Linked DNA regions of Homo sapiens. The protein of the gene in region 3 purifies or fractionates together with the protein of the main gene of each other region. This does not show direct contact. Each region holds a gene or a part of one and is shown on either strand. Other genes may lie near its edges.

What was found.
Region 1: the proteins of CCR6 (region 3) and PIGN purify together in Homo sapiens (affinity purification with mass spectrometry; one large-scale study listed by BioGRID and IntAct). This does not show direct contact.
Region 2: the proteins of CCR6 (region 3) and MCOLN3 purify together in Homo sapiens (affinity purification with mass spectrometry; one large-scale study listed by BioGRID and IntAct). This does not show direct contact.
Region 4: the proteins of CCR6 (region 3) and PTDSS2 purify together in Homo sapiens (affinity purification with mass spectrometry; one large-scale study listed by BioGRID and IntAct). This does not show direct contact.
Region 5: the proteins of CCR6 (region 3) and TSPAN15 purify together in Homo sapiens (affinity purification with mass spectrometry; one large-scale study listed by BioGRID and IntAct). This does not show direct contact.
Region 6: the proteins of CCR6 (region 3) and SLC39A10 purify together in Homo sapiens (affinity purification with mass spectrometry; one large-scale study listed by BioGRID and IntAct). This does not show direct contact.
Region 7: the proteins of CCR6 (region 3) and PTPN2 purify together in Homo sapiens (co-immunoprecipitation; one large-scale study listed by IntAct). This does not show direct contact.

What each region holds. Positions count from the first base shown.
Region 1 is NC_000018.10:62,159,557-62,163,056, forward strand, and holds part of PIGN (GPI ethanolamine phosphate transferase 1), read right to left. Parts: intron 2,957-3,500; exon of another isoform or gene 2,774-2,956; 5' UTR 2,697-2,773; intron 1,830-2,696; 5' UTR 1,798-1,829; coding exon 1,577-1,797; intron 1-1,576.
Region 2 is NC_000001.11:85,042,001-85,045,500, forward strand, and holds part of MCOLN3 (mucolipin-3), read right to left. Parts: intron 3,363-3,500; coding exon of another isoform or gene 3,361-3,362; coding exon 3,133-3,360; intron 1-3,132. UniProt on the Homo sapiens protein: Nonselective cation channel probably playing a role in the regulation of membrane trafficking events. Acts as a Ca(2+)-permeable cation channel with inwardly rectifying activity.
Region 3 is NC_000006.12:167,129,596-167,133,095, reverse strand, and holds part of CCR6 (C-C chemokine receptor type 6), read right to left. Parts: intron 1-3,500. UniProt on the Homo sapiens protein: Receptor for the C-C type chemokine CCL20. Binds to CCL20 and subsequently transduces a signal by increasing the intracellular calcium ion levels.
Region 4 is NC_000011.10:484,779-488,278, reverse strand, and holds part of PTDSS2 (phosphatidylserine synthase 2), read right to left. Parts: intron 1,389-3,500; coding exon of another isoform or gene 1,341-1,388; coding exon 1,206-1,340; intron 860-1,205; coding exon 809-859; intron 81-808; coding exon 1-80. UniProt on the Homo sapiens protein: Catalyzes a base-exchange reaction in which the polar head group of phosphatidylethanolamine (PE) or phosphatidylcholine (PC) is replaced by L-serine. Catalyzes the conversion of phosphatatidylethanolamine and does not act on phosphatidylcholine.
Region 5 is NC_000010.11:69,496,465-69,499,964, reverse strand, and holds part of TSPAN15 (tetraspanin-15), read right to left. Parts: intron 1,757-3,500; coding exon of another isoform or gene 1,686-1,756; coding exon 1,569-1,685; intron 1-1,568. UniProt on the Homo sapiens protein: Part of TspanC8 subgroup, composed of 6 members that interact with the transmembrane metalloprotease ADAM10.
Region 6 is NC_000002.12:195,730,226-195,733,725, reverse strand, and holds part of SLC39A10 (zinc transporter ZIP10 precursor), read right to left. Parts: intron 1-3,500. UniProt on the Homo sapiens protein: Zinc-influx transporter. When associated with SLC39A6, the heterodimer formed by SLC39A10 and SLC39A6 mediates cellular zinc uptake to trigger cells to undergo epithelial-to-mesenchymal transition (EMT).
Region 7 is NC_000018.10:12,794,445-12,797,237, forward strand, and holds part of PTPN2 (tyrosine-protein phosphatase non-receptor type 2), read right to left. Parts: intron 42-2,793; coding exon 1-41. UniProt on the Homo sapiens protein: Non-receptor type tyrosine-specific phosphatase that dephosphorylates receptor protein tyrosine kinases including INSR, EGFR, CSF1R, PDGFR.

The DNA.
Region 1 (3,500 bases), on a different chromosome or scaffold from region 3:
ACCTTGGTTTGATCTTATTTTCCCACAATGTTCGTCTATTGACTTGAGTCTCTCTTTTCTTTATTTTTATCCTTCAATATGTTATGCATCTCTCTGAGCTATCGTAAATTTAGTTCTGAAAATTCAACACAGCATTAGAGTTCATCCATTCTTCTAGCTGTCAACAAATATTTGTTAATTGCCCATTATGTTATAGGAACTGGAGATAAAGTGGTGGATAAGTCCCCAGTCTCATGGAACTTTCATGATGGAAGTACTATAAAGAAAAATAAAACAGGCCAGGCACGGTGGCTCACGCCTGTAATCCCAGCACTTGGGAGGCTAAGGCAGGTGGATCATGAGGTCAGGAGATCAAGACCATCCTGGCTAACACGGTGAAATCCCGTCTCTACCAAAAATACAAAAAATTAGCCGGGTGTGGTGGCGGGCGCCTGTAGTCCCAGCTACTCGGGAGGCTGAGGCAGGAGAATGGCGTGAACCTGGGAGGCTGAGCTGGCAGTGAGCTGAGATCACGCCACTGCACTCCAGCCTGGGTGACAGAGCGAGACTCCGTCTCAAAAAAAAGAAAAAGAAAAAGAAAACAGAGTAAAATGATAGGAGGTAATGATGACAGATGGAGATGGGGGAAGACACAACATTTTAGATAAATTTCCTCTTGAATTCTATTTTAATCTCTCCATAACAGCATTACAAGGCCTTTCAGGAGTTGCCACTAATCAGAAAAAGAGCAATTGTTTGTAGGCCCTTTGTAAGTCCAAGAAATTAAATATTTCTTTTTAAAGCAACTTAACAGAAGCCAAAGTTATGTTAAACAGTGATATAGAAGTGAAAGGGCTCTATATTCTTTTACAGAAGGTTGTGTTTTAATTTGAAGTCTATATTTTGTACTTAAACATCATTGAAATTAGTAATTCATTAATATTTATGCTTGTCTTTATTTTGTAAAATTAGCAGACTTTTTTTTTGTTTTTTTTTTTGAGACGGAGTTTTGCTCTTGTTGCCCAAGCTGGAGTGCAATGGCACCATCTCGGCTCACTGCAACCTCTGCCTCGCAGGTTCTCCTGCCTCAGCCTCCCAGGTAGCTAGGATTACAGGCATGTGCCACCACCCCCAGCTAATTTTTTGTATTTTTAGTAGAAACGGGGTTTCTCCATGTTGGTCAGGCTGGTCTCAAACTCCTGACCTCAGGTGATCCCTGTGCCTCAGCCTCCCAAAGTGCTGGGATTACAGGCGTGAGCCACTGTGCCCAGCCAGCAGACTTATTTTTTAAGAAAAAAATAATATAGTGAGTCTTGAGCCAAGTTTGGGAAATTAGGACAATTTAGCTTAAGCAGCTAAGCCTATCCATTTCAATTCACCGGTTATCAGCTTCAACAATACCAGAAATAACACCTAGGAGGAAATAAAGTAGCATCTAGTGCTGACCCATAAGACAAAGGCAAATGTACAAGTGCCCTATTCTCTTTCTCATCATCACCCCTGTGCCCAGTGCATGATAAATAGTAAGATATTTTGCAGTTTACTTAACTCAGAATAACATTTTAAGAGATGTCTCTGTATCAGTTTACATGCTTACCTAATAAACGGTGCTCTAGAGTTTCCATTTTCATCTAATTCGTAAAGTGCATCTGCTCGAAGGCCATCAGCAACAAACAACACTAATCTTCTCGCTGGAGGAGGCAATGGTGTAAACTGAGGAGTCATTCCATGAACCAAAGGAGATGTAAAATAAATGTCAAAGATGGAGGCGAAGAACACAAAATGTATAAGCAATCCCAAAGTAAAGAACAGCAGCATATCCAGTGTAACTAATTAGTCTTCAAGAACAGCTGAAAGAGAGAACAAAATTAAATTGGGGTAAATCTTAATGCATTCATATGTATTTTCACATATTTTGATGATCACAAGTAGATGAAACATATATTTTTAATTATTATATAACTCACAACTTTACTTTCATTTGTGGTGGTAACAATAAGCACTATTTAATAATGTGACATAATACTGAAATCAAATATGTAATAAAGTACATCTAAGCAAAAAGAAAAAGTTCAAGTATAATAAGTAATTGGGACAAATAAACTATAATGAATTTAACTGCATAATAAGCTCATAAAAATTAGCACAGGACCAAAGAACAAATAAATAATTAAATCAGTCCTAAAAAGAGTTAGCGTTCAGCCAAGTCAAATCCTACAAAAAGAAAATATAAGTCGTGCAACTCTTGGTTGTACATATGACAATCATTGCCAATAACGGATTTTTAATTATTTAAATCAGTTATAATTATTTAGATGTTGCTGAATTGATTTAAATTATTCAAATATTTGTGATTTTTTTTTTCTTCTTACTTTGGTATTCTGGCTCTCTTGACTATTACCATATTGAGCAGGAAACATGTATTCTATCACATTTGGCAGAATCATATGAAGTTAAATTTCATCTGTGCTTCAGAAAATTTGTACTTATTAAAGAAACATTTTATTTTAGTTCCCTGAATCAATCAAAAAGGTTATGTTTTATCCACTCAATAAAAATGTTTTGTGCACACATCACATGCATAACTGGGTGCTGGGGTACTATAAAGAATATCGAGTTCTCTGTAAGTTCATCACAGAGCTGATGAACTTACAAATACTTAAGGAAGAAAAACGAAGCAATATGAAACATTTAAATAAAACTGTAAAAGAAGATACCATTAAATTGCCAAGATCAAACGGAACATGGGAGTACTTTCCAAGCCAGTGTGTAATTTGCTATTGTTGGTGAATCTCTGCAGATCGAGGAGAAAAAAAAAAGTATTGGAACTTGTCTTAGTTGTAATGTAACGGCATTAGCTACATATAGTGATCCTAGGCTGAAAAACACCAAGGATGAGGTAATTTTAGCTACAGACACATCTTTTTCTTCTTGGCCTGAAGAATCACATCATGGAAGGAAAGGATGGCAAAATAACCTTGCAAAAACAAATGAAACATTGGAAAAACACTCATCAAAGTCAAGCAGATTATAAAAAAGAAAACATGATAGAGCAAAAGGTCAAATTACAAGCCACTTATTTTCTGAGAACCAAGGGTCAACTAAATATCAAAGATATTCTACAAAGTACAAAAGTTCCTTAGTAAGTAGATGCTATTTTGCATCTCATAGCTAACTGACAAAGAGAATCTTTATGTGTCATATAGCATATTCCCTCCCCTCTTCTGTGCTACTACAAATCAACTTTCCATTTTCTGAGGCAGTTTAGAATAATAATCACTGTCCTTAATTTTTTTAAAAAGTAAATTTTATGTTTTTTTACTAAACAACCTAATGAACATTAAATGCTAAATTATCAATATGAATGTAAAATAATTCTGAATATATTTGTGTTATTTTCTTAAATATAATTCTCAATGTAGAATTAAAGATTCAAATATTGTGAAAAATTCTTCAAATTACCAAACCAATTTAAGATTCCATTAGAAACATGTAAATAACTGTTTACCCAAATCTGAAAG
Region 2 (3,500 bases), on a different chromosome or scaffold from region 3:
ACACACACACCACATGCTGTACATGCTGTAAATTGAGAAACTACACCCTTACTTAAATCCCAGAGTGAGGCAGAGTATATTTTATATGGAAGGCGGGAACAATGTTGAGCACCTATGTGCCATACACTATTCCAGGAACTTTCCTCATACTAATCCTGCGGTGTATTCCTCATACACCAATTTTAGAGATGAGGCTCAGAGAAGTTACATAGTTTTTTCAAGTCACATCACTAGCCAGTGTTGATACAGTGAAAACTGAAACCCATGTCTGACACACTAAATCTAGGTTCTATCCACCCTGTCATGCTACACAAAGTAATCCAGGGTTTGATCAGAAAAAATACAGCAGACAAATCTTTTCCCCTCTCCCTTCCACATATGATATATGGTCTGCACCCCACACATATCATCACTCTGCACCTAACTCTCTTTTCTGCAGAGCTTCTTTAATTGTCCTCAATAAGATGACATCTTGATATTCTAGGGATTTTGCATCTGTTGAAGCTGATGACCAAACAGCCCCAAAGAATTCCCAAAGATATTCTTACCAGTCATTCAAATACATGAGTACCTCTCCTGTGTCAGCAGTGAGCTAGGGACTGAGGATACAATGAGAAGACAATTGGTCCCTGCCCTCAAAGGTTTAGTGGCAGACAGGAATAACAATGGCTGAGAGAAAACTGCTGTAATTCAGAGAGTAAGCCAGGTAGTGGGAAAAGAGAAATTTTTAGTAGGGTGTCTATCATTGTAAACATCTTTCTTTTGCTGCTGCAGACACAAAATCTCCAGTTTAACAGAAGGACCACCTCATTTTCCCTGAGATAATCTGTCACCATTTGCTCACTTCATTTGCTCAATTACAAAGCTGTCTTTATCTAATATTTGTTTGATTGCTCTGATATAAATTAAGGAAACATCACAATTAAGAAACCCTCAGTTCCTTTTAAAAACTTACCTAAACACCTTTTACATGCTTATTACTAGCAGCCTTAATATCTTAAACCATTGTTCAGTTTTCCCTTGACCACCTTAGTAAACATAGGAAGGTAGATGAGCTCCCTAAAAATTAAGAAGTAATTACGAACATAAATCTTAGAGAAAATAAATCTGAGTTTGAATATCAGTTCTACTCTTCTAGTTTCCTGACTATGACAGGGTCCTTTTCCTTACCAAGACCCTCATTGTTCTCCTCTGTGAAATGAGGATACCACTACCTACCCTCCAACTTGTTTTAAGAATTGAGTATGGGCCGGGCACTGTAGCTCACGCCTGTAATCCCAGCACTTTGGGAGGCCTAGGTGGATGGATCACCTGAGGTCAGAAGTTCAAGAGCAGCCTGGCCAACATGGTGAAACCCCATCTCCACTGAAAATACAAAAATTAGCCGGGCATGGTGGTGTGTGCCTGTAATCCCAGCTACTGAGGAGGCTGAGGCAGGAGAATCGCTTGAACCCGGGAGGCGGAGGTTGCAGTGAGCTGAGATGGCGCCACTGTACTCTAGCCTGGGTGACAGAGTGGGACTCCATCTCAAAAAAAAAAAAAGAATTGAACATGATGACATCTATAAAATGTTTAGCCTGGTATACAGCAAACACTCAAGTGGTACCTATTATTATTCTAAGTAGAAAATATTCATGTTCAATTGATACAGGCTTTTCTCCTTTATAAGAAACTAAACTTTTCACTATTGAGACACACCATATTATCACTCAGAAGTTAAGAATTTCAATTTCAACTTGCCAAGTATTTGGCTGAGAACTGAACATCCATTTTCAGGGTAATATAATAGAGAGAATGCCTGCCTTCAAAGTCTTGATATTGCCACTGACTAGCCATGTGACTTTTTTTTTTTTTTTGAGACAAGGTGTCGCTCTGTCACCCAGGCTGGAGTGCAGTGGTGTGATCACCACACCTGGCTTATTTTTGTATGTTTTACAGAAACAGGTTTTCACCATGTTACCCAGGCTGGTCTGGAACTCTTGAGCTCAAGCAATCCACCCACCTCAGCATCCCAAAGTGCTGGAATTACAGGCATGAGCCACCCTGCCTGGCCAAGCCATGTGACTTTAAAAGAGCTCTACAAACATCAGTTTCCTCTTCTGTAAAATGAGCCAGTAAGAATGTTAGAATTAAATGAAATAATGTACTGGAACAGGGTAGTCACTAAATGTTTGTTTCCCTTGATACAACACCTAGCATTAGAAACAAGCAAGAATTCTACCAACTTCATATGATTGTAAAAATTGCCTTGGTTCCCTAACAATCATAAGTGTTTGTTCTCAATAAGCAGTTAAAATTAGTAATATCCTGTTTTTTTTAATCTCTCCTTCAATACCAATTGTTTATTTACTTAGGCATTTTTCACCAACTTAGGAAGAGTAAGTAATAATAAAAATAAACCTATCACATCTATTTTTCTCACTAAAATCTGCTTCTATTTTGCCCTTTGCTTTTAGCAAGAGATAATTTGACCAACAGGAAAACATATTTTCATAAGAATAAATCACAACCAGTATATATTAAGAATCACAAAATATGGTTCCCCCTTTCCCCCAAAAAAATATTAAAAGCAGCCAAGGAAATGTGATTTAAAAGCTCCCTTTGAACTAAAAAGAGGTCCTGTGTTTCACTAGCTCCTGCCACTCCTCTTCTGTTAGTTAACTTCACATTCTTCCATTGCATGGTTCTCATGATCACAGGGTTGTGAGAATCTAAGAATTTGCCTGTAGCAGGAACCCTTTAAGTTTCTGAAGAGAGAAATTCCCAGGAAACTAACTAGGAAGGAAAAGAAAGTCCTAATGTTGGACAACACTAGTTTCCATGGCTTATTTAGAAACCAGCTGAACCTCTTCATTGGAAGCCAAATATTAGTTTTCTTTTCCTGAAAATTAATTAGATTATGTGACTAAAATTATAACTTAGCGAACGATACAAGAAAAAAACTAAGAAAAAAGAAGACAAACTCTTTCACAAATGTTGAAGACAGAAGGGTCTAAGATTGTATGTTTTCTTATCTGTTACTCTTCAACATTTTGCATATAGTTAAAAGTTATTTAAAAAAAAAACCACTGTCCATAGTTATCTTTGTAATTAAAAGAGGCTTTCACCAAACTCATGATCTGAGATGCTTACCTGGATAGTCACCATTGCAATTTTTAGAATTTGTATGGCAAGTTTCCATGGTTTTCTACCTCGAGCCCAGAACTTCTCACAGGGATTCATGAAAAAAAATTTGAGTTTTCGCCTCATCTGGTCTTCTAATAGAAGCTCCTCAGATGGAGATGTTTGCTGGTTAAAATTGCAGCGATTTTCCTCTTCATGAGAGCTGCAGCTACTCACAACTACCTCAGGATCTGCCATCTCTAGAGGAAAAAAACAACAACAACAACAACCAACATTTCCATTTAGTGAGTAAAGACACAAGTCCATATTCTTTAATATTGCAAGGAGAAGCCCATACAGAAGTCCTGGTTTCAAATAAGCACCATTGCTCTAAACTG
Region 3 (3,500 bases):
AAGACACTCAAGAAAGTGAAACATATATATATTGAATAGAAAAAAGTATGTTAAAGCTTATATCTGATAATAGGTTATATCCAGAATATACAAATAATTTTTACAACTCCCTATCAAAAACATAAACAATAAGAAACAGGGGGAAATGTGAACAGGCAATTCACCAAGGAAAATACATGGATGGCAAATACACACACAAAAAAGACGCTCAATGCCATTAATCATGAGGAAAATGCAAATTAAAACCACAATGAAGGCTGGGAACAGTGGCTCAGGCCTGTAATCCCAGCAATTTGGGAGGCCGAGGCAGACGGACCACTTAAGTCCAGGAGTTCGAGACCATCCTGGCCAACATGGTGAAACCCCATCTTTACTAAAAATACAAAAATTAGCCAGGCGTGATGGCGTGCTCCTGTAATCCCAGCTACTTGGGGGGCTGAGGCAGGAGAATCAGTTGAACCCGGGAGGCGGAGGTTGCAATGAGCTGAGATTACGCCACTGCAGTCCAGCCTGGGTGACAGAGAGAGACTCCGTCCAAAACACACACACACATACACACACACACACAGACACACACACAGAGATCCCACTGGAAGGACTAAGATTAAACAGGGGGCTGGAAGCTGGGAGAGGACATGGTGCATCTGGGGCTCTCACACTTTGTTGGTGGGACTGCAAGATCACACAGCCACTCCAAGGAGACAGTGGGGTCCTTTCTTGCACAGCTGAACATGCATCCACCATGGGAACCTGCAACCGACTCCTACATGTCTACCCAAGAGACATGGGAGGATTAACACTGGAACATTCCCAGCAGGTTTATTCTTAACCGTCCCAAACTGAAAAAGACCCAAATGTCTGTGAACTGGTGAGCAGATACCCGAGTTGAAGTGTATCCATGCAACAGCATATACTACTCAACCATGAAAAGGAACGGGCGACTAATGCATGCTCCAACGGGGGTGACTCAAAACCTTCGCTCGGTAAGAAATCCAGGCAGAAGAGACCATGCACTGCACCATTCCACCCCTAACATTTCTAGAAAAGGCAAAATAACAGTGGCAGGAATGAAATCAGGGATTGTCATCAGGACGGGAAGAAGGGATTGGCTGGGGTTGGGCGACACAAGGGGCTTTTGTGGTGGCAGAAATGTCCTCTATCCTGATTGTGGGGGTGGCACATGGCTGGGTGCCCTTGTCAAGACCTGTTGAATTGTACCCTTCAATCGGTGACATTTATTGCATATAAATTAGCCTCAATAAAGTTAATTTAAAAGTACCTGCGTACTCTTCCGCGCAAATGTGTTGGAACAGACACTTAGTGCCATAAACAGTCACAGCAAGGATCTGCCGCTGAGCACTGAGGGGTAATGGGAGGTTCTGGGGCAAGAAGAGCTTTTGAGGACTCCATAAGGACAGAGGCGGGGACGGTGGGAAGGAGTGGGCAGTGTGGGTGGAAGGCAGGGGCTTGGGGACAGCGAGGGGGAGGCCTGCAGCAGGGGCGCGGCTCTGGAGAACAAGGGAGCAGGGGCTGTGGGGAGCGGTCGCTGCAGGGTTGGACGGATGCTAGGCCAAGGTGGGGCCAGCGGCACGGGTTCCCAGGTGAGTGGGGCTGGGACCGGATGGGAGGGAGTGACCTCCCCATCACGTGGAGGCTGAGTTGATGACGATGGGAAGAGCAGCGGGGGCCAAAAAGGGAGGGACGGCCCGGCACGCCGTGCACTCGATGCCCAACGGGCCCCCATTTAAGGTAAGCATTTGTTTAACTGCACCGTGACACACAGTATTTTCTGAATTTAAGTTGAACTCAGTTCAACAAATGTTTATGAACTGTCTACGGAGGAGAGGCACTGAAGTGCAGCGATGACTCAACGCGTACTTGAGCTTCAAAAGGCTGCCAGGTAAACAAGTAATTATATAACGGTTCCATGCTAGCAGTCATCACGAGATGCACCCCAGAAAGTGAGTAACTCTTGGTGAACAGAAGGCCAGCACTGGGGCGCCTGTGTGATGGATCCCTGTCGGCAGAAGGAGTTGGGAGGGGGCCCAGAGAGAAGGGGTCCAGAGGGATGGGGGTCCCAGAAGGAGGGGTCCCAAAGGGAGGGGGTCCAGAGGGAGGGTGGTCCCAGAGGGAGGAGTCCCGGAGGGAGGGGGGCCCAGAGGGTGGGGTCCCTGAGAGAAGGAGGCCCAGAGGGAACCAGATACACAGGCCACAGGGCAGGAAGTTCCCGGCAGAGCTATGAGAAGCTGGCCTACTCCGTCCTGTTCATAAGACACTACTTTAATTTCCTTTCATTTATTCTCATGTCAGAATAAGTCAATGAACCAAAATTGATAAATTCCATGTCTCTTAGGATGGTGTTTTGCACGTGTTAGGTATAAACAATGTACAATTCTAGATAATGACAAATTTAATGTCACTGTGGTTAAGAATCAGGATTCTCCATAAAAACGGTGGTTGTCAGGTTCACCTGTATGCCAGCCACAGTCATTGAAAATGATTCGGCCTTCCCCAAGCCACTGTTTTCACAGGAAAAACTGTGTGAATTGTTTTAAGGAAACTGTTTTGGTGACAGATTGGCGTGGGTATCACCTCAACGTGTAAAGAATCCTGTTCACAACTTGCTCTATCATCTCAGATCTCAGGCAGCAGTCACCAGCTCCTTGGAGAAACAGGCTGCAGATTTTCTATTAAGAAAATGTTGATGTGAAGACACTAAGAAGTTTTTTAGTAGATATTTCTGTTCCTTCTTTAATGAACTGAGAATAAGACACCCTGTTATCTACGAGTGGCAGATGAGAGATGCAGGGAAATGTGCTGAGCCCTGTGTCCAGTTCTTGGTGAACCAGTGAACCTACCCTTGCAAAGCAGCCACCTGCAACACATCTCACACTGTCTCTTTGAGGTTCAGCACTTCCTATCTCACACGTGGTCCCTATGACCACCATTCTCACCAGATCTCACTTTGATGTCATTAAATCACATGTAAAATACATTCAGCTCAACTGATTCTTAAAGTGTAATTTTCTTGTCTTTGGAATTTAGATATTTCCCAAACAAGTGGGCAGAGGAATACTTCTAGAGCTTCTGTAGGACACACTGTTCTTTGGAGGAGGAGTTTCAGGGGCTCTAAGAAAAAGTCATCTAATGACACACTTTAGAAATGTCATTTGACTCAATTCGGTTTTGCAGTTAAGAGGCTTCTTTTCCAATATTCAGCTGCCTCAAGTAAAGTGTCGATTGTTGCTGTCTCAGTAACTCATTGTCACCCCCCACCTGAATGTTAGCCTCTCACAGGACCCGGGGTACCCTGTAGGGCGGGCACACTATGGCATGACACCAAATGAGAGACTCATCATGTCTCATCCCCTGAGTATCTCCTTCACCAGGAAGGCATATCTCATTGACTGAGCTTTATCACATGTTCTGAAGACAAGAGAAAGCAGAATTTCTTGATTCCTGTTTGGCACCTCTCTACTCTTTTTTAAAAAAAGCATTTC
Region 4 (3,500 bases), on a different chromosome or scaffold from region 3:
TGGTGCTCCAGGCTGTACTCCAGGAACTCGAACATCACGCTGATGATCATGCACATCCACCAGTCTCGGATCATCAGGGTCTGTGGGCGCCAGGGTCAGCCAGAGTATGGGACGCCGGCCACACCCGGCCCTGCCCACGGGTGCGTGCAGCCCCCACCCCGGCTGGCAGCCAGAGTATGGGACGCCGGCCACGCCCGGCCCTGCCCACGGGTGCGTGCAGCCCCCACCCGGCTGGCAGCCAGAGTATGGGACGCAGGCCACGCCCGGCCCTGCCCACGGGTGCGTGCAGCCCCCACCCCGGCTGGCAGCATTCTTGGAGTCGACAGCACTGGCAGGGCCCCCAGTGAGGTCTCAGGGTGAGCGTGGGGTGGGTGGCTGCCCCTCCAGCAGCCTCGATGTACGACTGTCAGCAAACAAGGCAGCATCCCCGTGCCCGGGGCCTGACACCAAACTCTGCCAGGGTGGGCTGCAGGGTCAAGCAGGCACTGCTCTTAGCCCCATAGGTAGCACAGGGTCCCTCAGAAGTGGGATGGGGCAGTGCCCAAGCCCAGGCAGGGGCGGGACTTCCTGCCCTGCCGCCTCTTTCCACCGCCCCGACCCTGAGGACGGAGCGGGGACCCGACCAGGATCAGGGCTTCTGGGAGGTCCGGGAGCCCCACGGCTTCTCGAACCTCTGGGTGGCTGCAGTGCGACACCCTCCCACCACACTCAGAGCACCCTGAGCTCAACTCCATGGACAGAAACGGTCCAGAGCCCACGGCAGGCCTCAGAACCGGGGCGGGGAGGCCGGGAAGAGGAGGTGCCGTACCTTCAGGTACCAGCCAAGAAAGTGCGCGGGAACAAAGCCATCCAACTTGTCCTGTGGGCGACAGGGTATGACCCTTGACCCTGGGGCACAGCCACCCCCACTCCCCACACCGGCAGATCAGCCCACACCTGAGCAGCACCTGCCAGACCCCGGGAAGAAGGCCAGGGACTCACAGGTGCTGCCGTGGCCTGTGGAGACCACGTCCACGACAGCCTAGAGAGCAGGGGCCCCCTGCCCACCATGAGCACCATCCAGACGGACAGGGCCTCAGCACATCTCTGCACCAGGAGACCCCAAGTGTGGGCTGAGGGGTGCGAGGCAGGAGCGTGGATGGCGCCTGGTCCGGCACGGGGCCACACCTGGGGAGGGGCTCGCCTCAGGGCCCCCGGCGTCTTACCCAGATGTTGTGAAAGGGGTCAGTCTCATTGTCTGGGTCGTAGATGAGGCAGTTTCCCCCGTAGTCTCTCTCTGGCAGTGGGACTCCCAGCTTGGGGTCAACATACTTTAGAAACTGCCGGCCGTCCTGGACAGTCTGCAAGGCCAGTGCCCCCGTCAGCGGGGCTACAGTTAGTGGTGGCAACTTGAAACGGGAGATCATGGTTGTTTATTTATTTTATTTTTTTGAGATGGAGTCTCGCTCTGTCGCCCAGGCTGGAATGCAGTGGCGTGAACTGGGCTCACTGCAAGCTCCGCCTCCTGGGTTCACGCCATTCTCCTGCCTCAGCCTCCCGAGTAGCTGGGACTACAGGCGCCCGCCACCACGCCCGGCTAGTATTTTTTTTTTGTATTTTTAGTAGAGACGGGGTTTCACCGTGCTAGCCAGGATGGTCTTGATCTCCTGACCTCGTGATCCGCCCACTTCGGCCTCCCAAAGAGCTGGGATTACAGCCGTGAGCCACCACGCCCGGCCAGGAGATCATGGTTGTAAACTGCATCTCAGTCACCCTGGAGGAGGGCAGCGCCCTGTCTCAGCAGCCCTCCCCACCCCAGGGAAATCCTGGTGGGGCAGCGCGTGGGGAAGGAACCCCCAGGCACGACACCCCATCTCCACACCTGCGCTCCCCGGGGCCAGGTGGGCACAGGTGCGCTTCAGGACATGGGGGTCTAGGACCGCTGGACAGACGGGAGCGGGATGGGGCCCTGAGTTACTGCGGCGCGCCGCCCCCACCCCGACCCCTCCCCGCATGCGCGCTCAGGCCAACACCCTCACAGGAGTCGCCCTTGTGGAACCTGCTCTTTCCTCACCCAGACGCTGGCATCAGCCAGATACACCTCTTGACCTTAGGGCAAGGCAGGCTTTTGGGCCTGACGTCAAGGGAGGTTTACATCATTTACAGACACCTGTGCTCACAGCACACACGCACCAGGGCACCAGCTGTGTTTACACTCGCCTGCGCACACGGTGAACACACACGCCCGTGCACTGTTTACACTCGCCTGCGCACACGGTGAGCACGCGCGCCCGTGCACTGCTTACGCTCGCCTGCGCGCACGGTGAGCACACGCGCGCCCGTGCACTGTTTACGCTCGCCTGCGCGCACGGTGAGCACACGCGCGCCCGTGCACTGTTTACGCTCGCCTGCGCGCACGGTGAGCACACGCGCGCCCGTGCACTGTTTACGCTCGCCTGCGCGCACGGTGAGCACACGCGCGCCCGTGCACTGTTTACGCTCGCCTGCGCGCACGGTGAGCACACGCGCGCCCGTGCACTGTTTACGCTCGCCTGCGCAGTGAGCACACGCGCCCGTGCAGTTTACACTCGCCTGCGCAGTGAGCACACACGCGCCCGTGCGCTGTTTAAACTCGCCTGCGCACAGTGAGCACACACGCGCCCGTGCACTGTTTACACTCGCCTGCGCAGTGAGCACACGCGCCCGTGCAGTTTACACGCCTGCGCACACGGTGAGCACACGCGCCCGTGCACTGTTTACACTCGCCTGCGCACACGGTGAGCACACGCGCCTGTGCAGTTTACACTCGCCTGCACAGTGAGCACACACACCCGTGCACTGTTTACACTCGCCTGCGCACACGGTGAGCACACACGCGTCCGTGCACTGTTTACGGTCGCCTGCACACACACAGCACACATGCCCATGCACTGTTTACAGACGCCTGCGCAGTGAGCACACACGCGCTCGTGCACTTACACTCGCCTGCGCACACAGTGAGCACACACGCGCCCGTGCACTGTTTAAACTCGCCTGCGCAGTGAGCACACACGCGCCCGTGCAGTTTACACTCGCCTGCGCACAGTGAGCACACACGCGCCTGTGCAGTTTACACTCGCCTGCGCAGTGAGCACACACGCCCGTGCACTTACACTCGCCTGCGCACACAGTGAGCACACGCGCCCGTGCACTGTTTACACTCGCCTGTGCACAGTAAGCACACGTGCCCGTGCAGTTTACACTCGCCTGCGCACACAGTGAGCACACACGCGCCCGTGCACTGTTTACGCTCGCCTGCGCAGTGAGCACACGTGCCCGTGCAGTTTACGCTCGCCTGCGCACACAGTGAGCACACACGCGCCCGTGCAGTTTACACTCGCCTGCGCAGTGAGCACACACACGCCCGTGCACTGTTTACAGACGCCTGCGCACAGTGAGCACACGCACCCGTGCACTGTTTACACTCGCCTGCGCACACGGTGAGCACACGCGCCCGTGCAGTTTACACTCGCCTGCGCACA
Region 5 (3,500 bases), on a different chromosome or scaffold from region 3:
TGGCCTTCGGGGTACCCATGACCTCCCTGACTCCACCTCCTACCATCCTCCGCTGTGCTCCCTCTGCTCCAGCCACTCTGTGCATTTCTCAAACGCCCTGGGGTGATTCCCACCTGGGGCCTTTGCACAGCTGTTCTTGCTGCCAGGAATGCCCCTCCCCCAGACACCTTCCTCACTTTCTTCAGAGCTTCACCCAGATCCCGCCTTTCTCAGTATCCCAAACTGCAATCCTCCATGCCCTACTTTCTTTTTCTACTCAGCATTTATGATCCTCTATCTTTTACTTATTTTGTTTGTCAGTTTTCTCCACTAGGATGTCACCTCCTTGCGGGCAGAGACTTTGTTTGCTACACCCCCAGAACCTGGAAATGTGTCTGGCATAGAGTAGGTTCTCAGCCAATATTTGTTGAATGAATGAATGAATGAATGAATACAAGTTTGGCTTCCACATCTCAGCTTAGGTATTCAGATGCTGCTGCCCTGGGTGATGAGGTTCAGGATCACCCCACGCAGGCCTCTCTGGAAACTCTGCTACTCCTCAGCACCCCACTTCCCAGAGAACTACCCTAAAATGGCAGCTAACACTTCCAAACAAAGCTTCCCTCCTGGCCCGGCCTTTTTTAGAGCTAGTGCACTTGGCACTGGCTCTCTGACTCATGGGCGAGGCCCCCACCCGCAGCTGCTCAGTTTACAGAATCCAGCAGTGGGCACAGAATGGTGGCAATGTCAGGAGAAAAACTTTCCATGACTATCTGGGCCATGAGTAATTGCAAAGCTCTCCACCTCGTTCCAATCCTGAAACAGTTTCTGGACACATTTGTCAAACACAAGGACTGATGAAGCCTTTCACTTAAGCGCTGACAACACAAGACATCATCCCAAATGACCAAGGTGACAGACCCGAGAGGATCGTGCTGGGGAGAGGAAGAGGATGGCATTTACGTCACCAGACCCCCTTCCAAGCACTCTGCTGCTGATGATCACCAGGACCTCAAGGCCAAAGACCAATGGAGATGCCCAAGGTGCAGGTCCTGCCTGCCTCCACTAATGCTGCAGAGCCAGCTACCCCCGCTAAGCTCCCCTGGCCTGGGCACCTCTCCCTCCTGCCCTCACCTGGCCTGCACAGTTCTCCAGAGTGTAGCTCAGGCAACAGCTGCCTGCACTTCATCCCAGCCCTGCCAACCTTGGGCAAGACACCCAGCCTTTGAGTGCCTCAATTTCCTCATCTGTAAAGTGGGTAAAATAACAGTACATACCTCACAGGGTTGTCGTGAATACTAAATGAGTAAATACCACCAAAGTGCCCAGAGCAGGCCTGCACAAGGTAGGTGCTCAATAGATTTTAACCAACACCACTAAGAAAGACATGGTCTCCCTACCCCCGACCCCCAGAAGCTCCACTTTCAGGAGCCCTTGAGAATCAGGAAAGCCTCCGCTCTGCCACCAACTCCTACTTCCCTGCCATCCACCCACACCACCCATCTTCAAGTTGGGAAGAGAGAAAAGAGAACATTTATACCACCTGGGGTCCCCGACAGCCCCCCAGTCCCCACAGGAGCAGTGTCTACCGTGTTCCTGATGCAGCAGGTGTAGGGCACCCCACAGGCCAGGGGTCCAGGGGCACTGCAGTCGTGGTACTGATTCTTGCTCCAATCTCGGTAGTCCTCCCCGCCACAGCACTTGAACTGAGGGAAGCAAGCAGGAAAGAGGAGCTGCCGTCATCGCCCAGGCCCTGCTCAGACGACAGGAAGGGGCCCTGTCAGGAGACGGAGGCAGTTTATTATGTGGGTCACCCTGGGGCAGGGAGAGGCTGTACACTTTCAAGTCAGAGCTGTCAAAGTGTGGCATGGCTGCCTAGAGGGTAGTGAACCCCCTGTCACTAGAGAGGTATGGAAGCCAAGGCTGGGCTGCCTCTTGGTGGGATATCAGGGTAGTGACTAGGCACTGGGAGGAAAGGTCCTTCCTTGACAACTGGCCTCCACTTTCTTCATCTTCGTGTCCCCAAATGCAGGTGCTAGGCTGGAAAAGATGGCCCTTAAAGTCCCAGAGACCAAGCATGATTCTGTGAAAGTCCCTGCACCTCAACCAACCTTCGCACCCACCCTAGGAGCCACCCCGTCCAGCTCAGCTGGCCCTGCCCTTAGCAAGGAGAGCACCCACACCTCACAACCTGCCTGGAGCTCTCCCCTTAGCCGAGCCCCTCCCTGCCTCCCCTCCCTGCTCCTGTAGGAAGTAGTTGGTAACCCTCCTGATGGCTGGTATGTGCCTGGCATTGTCCTGGGCACTGGAGAGACAGGGTGAGCAAAAGCAAGGCAGCCCTTGCTCAGGTGGAACACATTCCAGTGGAGAGACAGAGAGTGAGCACTGGATGGAAAGGTGCTGTGCAACCTGGAAATGGAGAAATAGGGGGAAAGTGGGGAGGGGCAGCTCTAGGTTGGCAGGTCATGAAAGGGCTCTTTGTAGAGAGGATATTTCATCTGAAACATGGAAACAGAAAGAAGCCAGACGACCCATGCAAAGGCCCCACGCAGAAACAAGCTTGTATTTCAGCAGCAGGTGCGGAGGCCAACAAGCCTGGAACAGAGAGAGTGCAGAGCATGAGGATGAAAGGGCGGCACAGGCTGGACCATGCAAAGCTTTGCCAGCCAGCTGAAGCAGGGAGCTGGGACTGGAGGGCTCAACCAGGGCTGCAGTACACGTCCTGGTAGCCAGACACCTTTCAGAGTCCCCACAGTGCCCCTTAAGCCACCAGGTTTTGGGACCTAGAACTGTCTTTCTGCAATGTAGTTCAAAGGGCATTTGTCTTGCAATGGAACAGACCCAAGGTCAAATCCTCAGACCACCACTCCCTGCTGTGCAACCTCAGGCAAGTTGGTCAGCCTCTCTGAGCCTCAGATGGTTGTCTGTAAAGCAAGAATAAGGATGGCAGCTCTGCACAGCTGAGCTGTGATTACATAGAGTGCCATGCATGAAGCACTCAGCACTGGACCTGGCACCAAGCAAGTGCCCATTCAGCATTAATCACCTCCTACCTCTATGCCAGGAGAAATGAAATCCCCAAGCCAGCTAAAGGCTGGTTCCAATAAAAACATCTCACTCCACCCGGAGCAGAAGTCAGCTCTCCCAGCCCAAGCTGGCAGGCACATCCCTGGCAGAAAAAGACCTTCCAGAGGCTGCACCTGTTGTGACTGAAGAGAAAGTCTGGGCCAAGGGAGCGGCCACAGCAAGTGGCCCTGCATGTGGGGAGAGGCTAGTCCCCACTGAGAGCTGGCACAAGGATCCAGGCCAGCTGAGGCCCCCAAGATTATGTCCCAGGAAGTGCTGTCCCGGCTGAGTGGGCCTGCAGCCCTCACTCTACTTGTCCTCACCCAGGAGAACATACCAATGATCCCCACAGCTGGCACTGTGGTCTCACCCTGTGCTTGGCACTGTTCTAAGCACGTCTCCTGAATTAAGTCAAGGTAATCCTCATGACGACGCCCCAAGAGCTCCTGTCATTA
Region 6 (3,500 bases), on a different chromosome or scaffold from region 3:
TAACTCCGTCTCTATTAAAAATACAAAATCAGCTGGGCATGGTGGTGCATGCCTGTAATCCCAGCTACTCAGGAGGCTGAGGCAGGAGAACTGCTTGAACCCAGGAGGCGGAGGTTGCGGTGAGCCAAGATTGCGCCACTGTACTCCGTCCTGGGCAACAAGAGCAAAACTCCGTCTCAAAAAAAAAAGAAAAGAAAAGTTTATATACTTAATTTCTAAAGCATACCACATACTATTACATCTAAGAATAATCTGTAGATTCAAAATATAAAAATTAAATTCCTTTAATTTGTCTAAGTAAATAAGATTTGTGGAAGAAATACATTTGCATCATTATAGGCATACATTCTTTCCACCCAAACCTAATCTAAAATTGTGAAGGAATTGCTACTTCCAATTTTTACTTTCACTTTTCTGCAAACATAATTCAAATTTGCAGTCATTATCTACAGAAAGATGACACTGATATGCTACCCTCTGGGACACTACGTTTTGCTCCAAAACAGTATCTTGGTGATTTGGGTTTAGGGAGGAGAAATCTAGTGTTAAGTCACATAATTCTTAATTCATACTTCTTCCTGTCTAGGAAGAAACATCATTATTTGTTATTAAATAATGGGTACAATTAATCTAACCACCATGCTCTGACAGTGCTATGGTATATTTTAGCAATCTCTTAAAGGTCATATTTAAGAACTACAGCATGCTATCATAAATTCTGTTTAAAAGTCTATGGTAATGGTATATAATAGCTAGTAAAGATTATTTTCTTGTCCAAACCATTCACAAAATCACTTTATCAAATCAACTAATGGTCTAAGGGTTGGCAAACCATGCTGAATCTGGCCATGCCTATTCATTTACACATTGTCTATGGCAGCTTTTGTGCTACAACAGCAGAGGCGCTGTCCCAGGAACCACACACTACCACAGCAGAGTTGAAAAACTGTGACAGAAACCATATGGTCCCCAAAGCCTAAACCATCTACTATCTGGCCCTTCAAACTGACAGCTTCCTACATATGGTTCTAGTAAGACTATTTTACTCTATCCTTTCTCCTCCTTCCAAGTTTTTATTGTTACAAAGATTTTTCATTATGACTTTCCTTAAATACTTAAGCATAAACAATATGCAGCATGTTTTACAGAAATATGCCCTCTAGATATGTATACATACCAACTAGAATAGGAACTATGGCTTTGCCACATTTAATTCTAACCTGAATGTCAACACCCACACTGTTTGTCATAACCACAGCTAAGAGCCAACCAACACCTACCGGTATGGCCATATTTGTTTAAAATATTACATAAAAATGCTTTGATACTGATTGATAAACAGCACCACCCAAAGTCCTCTACAACTAGATACTTCCACCTGGTTATCCTATAGGTATCTCAAACTAAAACTTCTGGTACTGTTGATATCTTATTGAATGGCTTTAAATCAATAAAAGTCTTCCTCCATAGAGCCAAAGTCTTTCTGAAACAAAAATGTGATCATGTCATTCTACTGCTTAAACTTTTTCATGGCTCTCCAAAGTTTACAAGATAAACTCTCATCTTTTTGGTATGGCATGTTGTGCGACTGTCAGGATATGGCCAACACCTACCTGACGACAATATGGATCCATTTTTTCCTACTTAACATTAGAAAATACCCAATTTCTGGGTCATTAAAATCTCACAAAATATATGTGGACAGTTTCTTCCCTTTCTCTTGAACATTTAGAGTGTTTCCAATATAATTGTGACATTATAAATACTACTGCAAAGAACCACGTAGTGAGGTTTTATTTTTGTTTGCTTGTTTTATCAGGAGTAGTCATGTTATTTCCTCAGAATATAGTCCTAGCTATAGACTTACTGTTCAAAGGAATGATGTTATAAATCATTCAGCTTCCTCATACGACCCTTCCCCTTGCTTCTAATAAACTCCATTCTTTAGGACTCAGCTCGGATTTTTTTGATGGAAAAACTTTCTATTCCCCAACTTTTTAGCCAGCCTCTCTGTAGTTCCACAAACATGGTGCAAAACTCTATCATAACACATATCAAAATAACTGTAGTTATGACTTTTCTTCTTCATTAAACTATAAATCCTTTCTGTAAAGACTCATTCTTCTTGTATCTGTAACTTTCTAGTGTTACAGATGTAAGGAAATACTAACTATATATAAACTAAATTTCCAGCAGTATATAAAATAAGACAAAAATGCCTGTCCTCCCAGAGCTGACATCTTAGTGGGGAAGACAATGAACACGATAAATAAGTAAAATGGTGTTAATAGGTTGAGATACACGTACAAAGGAGAAAAAGTAAAGCAGGGATAGAGGATATGAAATGTTGAAGGGGAGATTTAAATTTTAGATAAGATGCCTCCTAAGCAGGAGCTAGCCATGAGGACGTCTGCAGGAAAACTATTCCGGAGGGGTGATCAGCAAGTGCCACAGCCCTGACGCAGAATGTCCCTCAGGGAGAGTGGGAGGATTTGAAGTAAGGATAGGAAAACTAAGGAGGACAAGGGAGTGGAAATGTTCAAGGATGATGAAAAACTTTGCAAGTCAAAGAAAGAACTTTAGGACTTTTACTCTGAATGGGATGAAAAACCACAATGTGAAGCATACAAATGTGATGATGTGATCTATGGCTTAAAAGGATTGCTCTAGTTGAGCTGATACAGAGTTGGAAGGCAGGGCAAGGACAGAGCAGGGAGAGTAGTTAAAAAGAGAAAGATGGTGGTGGCTTGGATGAAAATGATGAGGGTACAGGTGGTTAGGCGAAAGAGGCCTCAGGACTTTCTGGCAAACAAGATGTGGGAGGGCAAAAAGTTGAGTCAAAGGACAACACTCAAGCTTTTTGAGCAACTAGAAGAATAGAGGTATCATCATTTCTGAGATGGAGACTTCTGCAAGACAGGCTGGTCAAGTAGTAGTGTTGGCAACGTCAAGAGCTGTTCTGAACATGTCAAGTGCACAATGCCTTTTAGACATTCAAGTACAGTTGGATTAGTCTGGAGTTAAAGGAAAGGCCTATAATAAAGATACGAATTTAGGAATCATCAGCCAACAAATATTTAAAGCCATGAAACTAGATGAAATTACTTACATCTTTTGCCAACATTTAGATGCAGGGGGAGAAGAGGAGGATCCAGTAAAGAGTCTGAGAAAAGCCAGCAAGGTGGAGAAAAGGCCAGGAAATTGTGGTATTATAGAAACCTACTGACAAAAGACTGGGCGTGATGGCACATGCCTGTCATCGCAGCTACTTGGGTGGCTGAGGCATGAAAATTGCTTGAACCCAAGAGGCGGAGGTTGTAGTGAGCTGCGATCATGCCACTATACTCCAGCCTGGGCAACAGAGCAAGACTGTCTCACAACAAACAAATAAACAAACAAACAGAAGCCTACTGACACAAAAGCATTTCAAAGAAAAGAGAATGACCAACTGTCAAGTTCTGCTGTTATGACAAGAAAAATGAAGACTGGAAAATGACTAG
Region 7 (2,793 bases), on a different chromosome or scaffold from region 3:
TGGTGGCCTTTCTGTCCTCTCGAATACGTTTCCGTAGAGCACTATGAGGAAATAAAAACAAGTGAAAGGAAGTGCACACAGAGCAGGACTTGAGTACTCTAACACAGAGGACCTAGGCGCAAATAAAACCATCCACATAGTTTTCACCCTATTTGAACACTGGAATAATGAGGGGAAAAGCCTCAATATTCTTTTGAGACAGCGTCTTGCTCTGTCACCCAGCCTGGAGTGCAGTGGTACAATCTTGGTTCACTGCAACCTCTGCCTCCCACGCTCAAGTGATTCTCGTGCCTCAGCCTCCCAAGTAACTGAGACTGCAGGCGTGCACCACTATGCCCAGCTAATTTTTTGTATTTTTAGTAGAGACAGGGTTTTGCCATGTTGGCCAGGCTGGTCTTGAACTCCTGACCTCAAGCAATTCACCCGCCTTGGCCTCCCAAAGTCCTGAGATTACAGGTGTGAGCCACGGCGCCCGGCCAAGAAAAGCCTCAATATTCTTTAATGATTCAGAGATGTACCTTGACAACCATTCCTGGTACAGTTTTATATTGATAACTGCTTTTAGTGGGACCTGAAAATAAGCAAGGTACTTTCTTGACACGTGAATTGATGACTGTTAGTTTTCTTTCCTTCCTTGTTAACTAGTCAGCAGGAGCAGGAGTGGGAAGACAAGGGGGTACCACTTGCATCTGATCCCATTTCCTGGTCACGTTTGATGGTTAAGGCTCTTATAAAAGCTAGCTATTTAATATTTCCATGAATATTCTGTTGTGGGAGCACTTATTCTTTTATTTGACCATACACATTTCTACCTCCCATTTTCATAGTCAATACAGAAATTTTTTTGGGGTGGTGGGGGAGGCGGGGTGGATGGAGTCTTGTTCTGTTGCCCAGGCGGGAGTGCAGTGGCACGATCTTGGCTCACTGCAACCCCCGCCTTCCGGGTTCAAGCAATTCTTCTGCCTCAGCCTCCCAAGTAGCTGGGATTACAGACGTGCACCACCACGCCTGGCTAATTTTTTTGTATTTTTAGTGAGATGATGTTTCACCATGTTAGCCAGGCTGGTCTTGAACTCCTGATCTCAAGTGATCCGCCCACCTCAGCCTCCCAAAGTGCTGGGATTACAGGCATGAGCCACTGTGTCCGGTCTCAGAAATTTTGTTTCAGTGGAAGGTCTCTGACTCTCAAGATACTTAGTTCTGGTTCTATATAAATAATAATGCCATCCAGCTACTCAGGAGGACGGCTTAAGCCCAGGAATTCAAGTCCAGCTTGTGCAATATAGCAAGTCTTGCCTCTCTATAAAAGCACACCCACAAAAACAAAAAAACGGCCAATGGCAACATATAGGTTACTATTTCTTCCATTCCCTCTTTTCACTTTTCTGTATTACAGCAAAGGCCTAACCAGCTTCCCTGCCCTCAAATTAAATATTATTGCCATGGTAATTTTTCTAGAGCATACCCCTGGACACGTAGCTTGATTTAAAATCTTTTTTTTTTTTTTTCGTTACCGGGCCTAGTGCACGATGGTGCTTAAAAATCTCAAATGCCTCTTCAATGTCTCCTACATTGAGACTACCTTTTTCCTGGCCAAGACGTTTAACCTGAATTTAACTATGATAAATAATGATTAAAGAAATGCATTGTATGGGGCATTCTAAAAGATATCTGGCCTAGAAGCTTCAAAAATACAAATGTCAAGCAAGGAAGAAAAAGGCAGGGAACAGTTCCAGATTAAAGGAGACCAAAGAATCACATCAACTAAATATAGTATCAATCTTTGATTAATCTTGAAATATTTTTTAAACAGCTACAGAAGTTGGGATCAGGAAAATGTTCTAAAATTAGATCGTGGTGCCAGCTACACAATTTGGTAAATATATTAAAAGTCACTGAATTGTATACTTTAAATGAGTAAACTTTATGCTATATAAATTATATTTCCATAAAACTTTATTAAAAAAGCTATATGGTGAATCTTTCAGACAAGAGAAATCTGAATTGAACTATGTATTAGAATATTTTAATCAATGTTACACTTCTTTGGTGTACTGGAACCTTCTCTCCCCAAGAGATTGTTAGTGGGAATGTAAAATGGTTCAGCTGCCACAGAAAACAGTTTGACAGCTCCTCAAAAAGTTAAACATAGAGTTACCATATGACCTAGCAATTCCACTCCTAGATATGTACCCAAGAGAACTGAGAACACATGTCCATGCAAACGCTTGCCAATATTCTCCTGCTATGCAGAACTTTGTTCTTGCCGTTTTTTTGCTGTTCTCCAAATTTGTTCCCCACTAAAATAGAAACCTTCCCTTCTCTCCTGTCCTCTCATTTCAGTTCTACTCTTCAATTATCTTGCTCCACCCCCTCTAGCCCTTCTATTCTTACGGCATTTAATTTGAAGTAATTTATAATTTACTAATAATGTGCTAACTTGGGTACTTGTTTTATCTTCATCACATATTCTGCAACTTGAGGACAGACTGGGTTTTGCTATCTTTGTTCATCTTATGGTGCTTTCTCATGTCTTTTTCACTTTTTGTTATCATATATACAGGTATCCCTGGCTGTCTGAACTCCATCTGAATATCTGCTATAATGACTTGCAAAAATTCTTACTCAGAATTCACTCTCTGAATTGAAAATTCACTATCACAAATATGCATGTACCTGTTAGTGAAAACATTTGTGTTCAAGTGTAGGCAAAATATGTATAAAAACAGAGAGGGGGTTAGCCTCCCATGGGCCCTTTATTAGCTTTTGCCAGGAGCCTGGGGGTATCGTTAA